Linked DNA regions of Homo sapiens. Changing the gene in region 1 together with any one later gene gives a genetic interaction. Each region holds a gene or a part of one and is shown on either strand. Other genes may lie near its edges.

The links. A genetic interaction does not mean that the proteins touch.
Region 2: changes in DRG2 (region 1) and GBF1 together harm fitness more than expected from each alone (negative genetic interaction), as found in Homo sapiens cells (one study listed by BioGRID).

Annotation. Positions count from the first base shown.
Region 1 is NC_000017.11:18,097,948-18,101,447, forward strand, and holds part of DRG2 (developmentally-regulated GTP-binding protein 2), read left to right. Parts: intron 1-322; coding exon 323-412; intron 413-1,069; coding exon 1,070-1,130; intron 1,131-1,685; coding exon 1,686-1,776; intron 1,777-2,415; coding exon 2,416-2,488; intron 2,489-2,621; coding exon 2,622-2,712; intron 2,713-3,500. UniProt on the Homo sapiens protein: Catalyzes the conversion of GTP to GDP through hydrolysis of the gamma-phosphate bond in GTP. When hydroxylated at C-3 of 'Lys-21' by JMJD7, may bind to RNA and play a role in translation.
Region 2 is NC_000010.11:102,374,532-102,378,031, reverse strand, and holds part of GBF1 (Golgi-specific brefeldin A-resistance guanine nucleotide exchange factor 1), read right to left. Parts: intron 2,674-3,500; coding exon 2,448-2,673; intron 1,761-2,447; coding exon 1,600-1,760; intron 1,473-1,599; coding exon 1,232-1,472; intron 1,098-1,231; coding exon 892-1,097; intron 1-891. UniProt on the Homo sapiens protein: Guanine-nucleotide exchange factor (GEF) for members of the Arf family of small GTPases involved in trafficking in the early secretory pathway; its GEF activity initiates the coating of nascent vesicles via the localized generation of activated ARFs through replacement of GDP with GTP.

The DNA of each region.
Region 1 (3,500 bases):
AGAGGGCCTGGAGGATTGTGTGGGGTTAGGAGAGGCTCCTGATGTATATGGGGAACCCCATCAGAATCCAGATCCCTGCCTCTACCTGAGACAGTCCTGAGGCCTCCAAGGAACAGATGGGCCTCTGGTGTCTGACCCATCCAGGACAGGGCCAGAGGTGAGCCCTCTGGCTGGGAGGTCTCTTCACAGCCACCTAGGTCACCAAGCCGAGGGTGAGAGGGTCTCCTCCTGCTGCCTGCACCTGCAGGCCCCCAGCCCCTGGGGCCTCTCCCAGAAGGCCAGGGACAAGGCTCCTCAGTGCAATGATCTCCTTTTCTCCTAGTCCACATTCTTGAGTCTGATGACCTCCACGGCCAGCGAGGCAGCGTCCTATGAGTTCACCACTCTGACGTGTATTCCTGGGGTCATTGAAGTAAGTGGGTGTGCTGGGCCCAGAAGGAGAAGGGGCGCATGCTTGTGTTTGGACTTGTGCCTGTGCCCACCCTGTGTGTGAGTCTGGGTGGATGTCCCCATGTCAGGACAGGCTCTGGACTGAGCTGCTTTGCCCTCCAGCACTGACACTTCTGGGGATCCTAGCTGCTGGACCCCAGAGATGCCTGGTGGGGCCTGGAACTAGGAGGTCAGGCCAGCATGTGGCTACTTTGCCTGGCGCCCCCTGTGCTCTCCTCCCCAACACCACCACAGCTCTGGTCACTAATTGCTGCTTGGCTGGATCCTTCTGCCTCCCCATGAAGCTTCACTGCCTTGGGCTGTGTTTGCTTTGGGCAGCTGAGTGGTATGGCCTTAAGTTCCCATGGTGAAACAATTTATTTGTAAAGTGCTGGTATCATCAGTGATGAGTGTTGTGGGATTGGAAGATCTTGAGCCCTCCCTAGGCGGCTACTCAGCTCATAGGCTGTGGTCTGCACTGGGCTGGGGTGGTGACAAGGCTCAGACTTGGCCACAGGTTGGCATCTGGGTTTCCCTCAGCCCCTGAGCCCCGGGGCCATTCCAGATGTCCCAGATCCAGACAGGACCTTTCCAGTGGAGGCCCAGCCTTGCCTTACCTTTCTTCTCTTCTGCATCCTAGTACAAAGGTGCCAACATCCAGCTCCTGGACCTTCCTGGAATCATTGAAGGCGCAGCCCAAGGTGGGAGGCAGGGCAGGTGTGTGGGAAGCAGACTGGAGCTCTGTTACTGATCGTTGAAATTGGGTGTGGCTGTCATGGAGATCACTCTGGATCCCTGGTCCATTATCCCGCTTTCCAGAAAAGACAGGTTCCAGTTCAAATCCTTGGCACCAAACTAGCCTTGTGATCTTGGGCAAGTGATTGGGTATCTCTAAGCCAAGCCTCAGTTTCCTCAGCTGTAGAATGGGCATAATAATACATAATTTACAGCATAGTTTTGAGGATTAAGTGAGGAAATGTTCAGGAAGCATTTAGCCTGGGCCCTGCCACATGGTAGGGGTGGGCGTAGGACAGCCGTTATTATCCTGTTACTCCTTTTATGATGGTGGTGTCGGATTTTCTTCTGAAATAAGTCTCCGTCAGTAAAACATGTGGATTAAAGAAAAATGCCAAGCTTGTGCTAGTATGTGGCAGAGGCTGTGGTAGGTCTGTAAAGGACAGGAGTCCAGGGCGCCGTGGGCTGGGTAGCAGTCACATGGGTCCACATATGTAACTGCATCCCTCACACCCATCCAGGAAAAGGCCGTGGCCGGCAGGTGATCGCTGTGGCGCGCACGGCTGACGTCATCATCATGATGCTGGATGCCACCAAGGGAGAGGTGCAGAGGTCCGCAGGGTGGGGCATGGGGCAGGCTCACATGTCTGGGGAGGGCCAATGTGTCCCTGAGCTCGTACTAGGCGGCCTGTGGGTGTTTGGCTCTCTCACACGTGAGAGTAGTGGTAGGACTTGTCACAGACTAAACCCAACACCACCCAGCCTATGGCGTCTTCTCCTCAAGGCTTGTGTCCAGCCAGCACAGAGGTATCTTGGGACTGGGGGCCGAGGGGCTTGGCCTGGCCCTGCTTCCTGTTCAGAGGCACAGGTGCCTCATCACTGCCCAGAACCTGCCAGGAGCCCAGCCCCAGGCACAGAAGCATTGTTCATCCACATCCTGGCAGAGGGGTACACCAGGCCTGCCTCCTCGGGACCAGAAGGAGTACCCTCATGTGGTCACCTCGCGGGGGCTCCACCACTTGCCTGTGCATGCCGACCGTAAACCGGGCCAGTCCCCTCTGGGACTGTGGCAGAGTTTAGAAGTTCCCTGCAGCTCTAGGGCATTGGGAAGGAGTGTTCTCTGGGTTGCTGGGGAAGGGGGTGGAGGAGAGAGTCAGTCTCTGGGTGGGCAGTGACATCCTGCGTAACAGGGAAGCTGTGCATCTGGCTCTGTGGACAGCCTGTGAGGGGCTTAAGGGGTACTCTTCCTAGGTCTCTGCTGGAGAAGGAGCTGGAGTCTGTGGGCATCCGCCTCAACAAGCACAAGCCTAACATCTACTTCAAGGTGAGGCACCTCTCTGGCCTTCAGGCCAGGGGTGTGGCAGTTTTGAGACTGCATTGGCTGGCGGCTGAGGCTGTGGGACCATTGCTGTGACCCCTCGGTCAGCAGTTCTCCCCATCCCTTTCTCCTCTTTCAGCCCAAGAAAGGTGGTGGCATCTCCTTTAACTCGACAGTCACGCTGACCCAGTGCTCGGAAAAGCTGGTGCAGCTCATCCTGCACGAATACAGTATCCTTCCCTGAAAGACACGTGAAGGAGGGCAGCCACCACCGTCAGCGCAGCGGGGGGACTGACTAAGACAGGAGGCCTCATGGAGCAGGGTGGCAGCAGGTCACCCCCACTGCCCCTGCTGTCCATTCAAGTAGCCTCTGGGCAAGCTCCAGACTGCCAGGTCTGCAGCCGTGCACTTGACAATGGCTTCCTGGCTCCTCACCAAGTACTGGGCACTGTGGTAGCCAGATGACATCCGGAAGAAAAAGATGTCATGGGAAACAGCCTCTGAGGACGGGGGGTTCCTAGCCTGGAGAAGCCCCAGGGAGAGCTGGGGAATGGGTGGTGCCTCTAAAGTAGTGTCGGGGGCTGGTTGTGTTCTGGGGCCCTGGGGATAGGGCAGGGCCTTGGGCAGAGTTATGCCTGGCATATAGAGAACTCTTAGAGTCAGCTGTGAGCCCCTCGTTGCCAGAGGTGTGCAAGCAGAGGCAGGATGGCCCCCAGTGGAGTCCTGCATGGAAGAAGCTGGGTTCGACCAGCTTTCAGATGCTCCTGGTGCTAAAACCCAGGCTTCCCCTGAGGGGCTTTGGGGATTCTAGCAGGTACGTTTTTCTCCCTGCCTAGCTGTCAAGATTAAAACTCTGTGTTGATTGAAACTTTTATATATTGTGGTCCCTCTGGGGAAGAGAACAGAGGGCTTCCAAAGCATTACAATCTTGCAAAACCTCACAAGCAGATACCGCCACGGTCCCACACGGCCAGCATATTTCCTGCTTGGCTTTTTGGGGCCCTCCGCTGATGGGGGA
Region 2 (3,500 bases), on another chromosome or scaffold:
TAGCCAGGGTGGTCTCCATCTCCTGACCTCATGATCCACCCGCCTCGGCCTCCCAAAGTGCTGGGATTACAGGCAGGAGCCACCAAGCCCAGCCACTTTTGTCATTTTTGTATGGTTATTCTATTTAAGGCAATTGGTTCTCCATCAATTTAGTGATATAAACTCTGCTCACATAATTAATTTTATATGCCTTTGAATAGACACAGGGTAACTCTGGAAGGATAGACAAGAAACTGGTGACAGTGGCTGCCTCTAGTGAGGGGAACTCAGAAGCTGGGGACAGGAATGGATTGGAAACTTAGTTTTATCAGTTTACCCTTTTGTATATTTTGAACCTACTCAAAAAATAAGTAAATCTTAGTTTAAAAATAAATTTAAAGGCCAGGTGTGGTGGCTCATGCCTGTAATCCTAGCACTTTGAGAGGCCGAGGCAGGCGGATCACGAGGTCAGGAGATCAAGGCCATCCTGGCCAACATGGTGAAACCCCGTTTCTACTAAAAATACAAAAAATTAGCCAGGCATGGTGGCACGCGCCTGTAGTCCTAGCTACTTGGAAGGCTGAGGCAGGAGAATCGCTTGAACCCGGGAGGTGGAGGTTGCAGTGAGCCGAGATCACGCCACTGCACTCCAGCCTGGGTGACAGAGAGACTACATCTCAAAAAATAAATAAATAAATAAATAAATAAAAATAAAAATAAATAAATAAATAAATTTAAGCAAATAAAGACTTACAGGTAAGGTTTTGGGTAAGGGAATATTGTGAAGATGGTGGTCCAGGGCCTGGGCTGGCACACATGGGCCCTTCCCCTCAGCCCTGGCTTTCCCTGGCCGCCCCAGGCTCCCAGTATCAGGTGCAGGGGAGGAGAGGAAGTAAAGGGTGCCATACTTACGTCCTGACTGACCTGTAAAGACACCGTATGGTAGCTGGCAGGCACGCCTTCGTCCTCATCATCATCACTCTGCCCGCCCCGAGAGGCATGTTGGCTGGAGGTTCGAGGCCGGCGAAGCATTGATCCCTCTTTGGATTTCTTCTTGAAGCGGTTCCCTTTGCTGTCATATTTGTGACTCTTGCCACGTTTCTCCTGGGACTTGCATCCTGAGCAGAGCCAGACTCAGGTCACATTTCTGTGTCTATATAGGCATAGATACCCTGCCTTTTCTCCCCTCTCAGCCTCTCCCCTGCATAATTGCATGGCTACTCCCCAGCTGCCCCCTCATCAGCTGACCCACCGCCATTCAGACTGGCCTCCACAAAGATCCGGAGAGTCTTGACGCAGAGCTCAAAGTTGTCAGGTGTGATGTGGGCAGCATCACGCACAATGAAGGACAGCGATTCCACACACTTAAGCAGAGACTTAGTGTCGTGTGGCCCCAAATCCAGTCCCACTGTTAGGCTGTATTGATTGATCAGGGGTGAAGGGCCTGGGCGGCTGGGCCCTGGCTTGGAGTTATCAACGTCATCCTTCCCAACCTGTAAAGTACACAGAGGAGCTGGGGACACAGGCTTGGCCCCTGTGTGAATGTCCTTGCAGAGGACCAGGAATTCTTCCCACAGGTCAAGCAGGAGAGACTCAATTGCTGCCCATATTGTCACTCACCACTAACCAACCACTGTTGACCACATCGGCATCTGTGGCTGATCGGTGTATCTTGCCCGGCCTGCCATGGTCAGTGTAGACCTCTGAGTCGGAAGTGTACCCTCGATCCAGGCTCACGTCATTCTGATGGTAGGATGGGAGCTCACTATCTGACTGGGCCCCTATGGTAGGCAGGGAGAAGGGCAGAGTCAGGGTGGGGATGGGGCACTGGGATGAGGGATAAATCAGGCTCTCAGAAAAAAGATGCTGAGGCCTGGCCTCCCCTCTCTCTGGCATAGTTTAATTTCTGTCACCAGAGGGCCAAAGGATGGCCGGAACAGTTTCTCTGTTGACCAAATAAGGTGGCAGGCTAATCTGGGTTCCTGATGGCATCTAGTGGCAGCTGTAGCACCACTCTAGGGAGTGGTGGCAAGGACAAATAAGCAATGCAGAAGGCTATGAAGCCAGGCTTTCCACTGTCCTGAGGACTGTTTTCCCAGTTTCTGGGATTTAGTGATGTATCGATTTAGTGATATAAAGTCTGCTCACAGAATTCTATTTTCCCAGAATTCTGGGAAAACAGTCCTCGGGACAGCTCAGAAACAGAAACTGGGAAACAGTCCTCAGGACAAATCAGTCCTCAGGACAGTAGGAAGCCTGGCTTCACAGCCGTCTGCATTGCTTATTTGCCCTCATGCTATTTAACTTATGGGTACTAGCCAGCGGGCACTGGAAGCTCTGGAAGTGATGGCAGGAGCCAGGGCTGTTTAATCTGCTGAACACAGTAACCTGTGTTTTGTTTTCCTGTCCCAACTCCTGGGGTGTAACTGTTTATCTGCCAGCCTGAGTCTCCCTGGGAAAGGGCTTACCGGCATCAGGTGCATCTGCCCTGGCTGTGGCCTGCAGAGCAGCTGGAGGCTTCACACCTGAGCCGATGCACTCCAGCAGTGTGAAGAGTGTGGCCCAGTCATCACCTGAGTGGATGTTGGCTGCATTGGTCTTCAGGAGTTCATGGAGCCCATACGCAACCTGGTGGCTGACTCGGGATAGCACACTGGGCTTCATCAGTAGCAAAATGCGCAGGGAGAGCAGCACCTGGAGTGGGGTTAGGGCAGGGAGCGGGGAAGCGGGGAGCTGTGTGGGCACACAGCTTCCTGTCTAGTTTTCTTTCCCACCAGTCTCCTTAGGCCAGTGAAGACAGTTTGGCTAGGACCCAATTTAGGATACTGCTCTGGTCTTTTTTTTTTTTTTCAAATAGAAATATATTAATTATATTATTTGAGACAGGGTCTTGGTCTGTCTCCCAGGCTGGAGCACAGTAGCACAATCACAGCTCACTGCAACCTGAAACTCCTGGGCTCAAGTGATCCTCCTGCCTCAGTCTCTGGAGTAGCTGGGACTACAGGTGCATGTGACCACACCTGGCTAATTTTTTTTTTCTTTTTTGGAAAGATGGGGTCTCGCTATGTTGCCCAGGCTGGTCTTGAACTCCCAGGCTCAAGCGATCTTCCCGTCTCAGCCTCCTGAAGTGCTGGGATTATAGGCATGAGCCACTGCACCCAGCCTCAAATACAAATTTTTATTGAGAAAATTATAGGCTCATATGCAGTTGTAAAGAAATAATACAAAAAGGTCCCTTATACACTTTGCCCAGTTTATCCCAATGGTAACATTATGCAAAACTATAGTATAATATCATAATCAAGATACTATCTGATCTTATTCAGATTTCCTGTTTTACTTGCATTTTTGTGTGTATTAATTTCTATACAATTTTATTACCTGTGTAGGTTTGGGTATCCACCACAAAACAACATACTGAACAGTTCCACCACAACAGTATCCCTCATGTTGCCTTTTTCTTTTTTTAGAGACAGGTTTTGCTCTGTCACCCAGGCTGGAGTGCAGTGGTATGATCATAG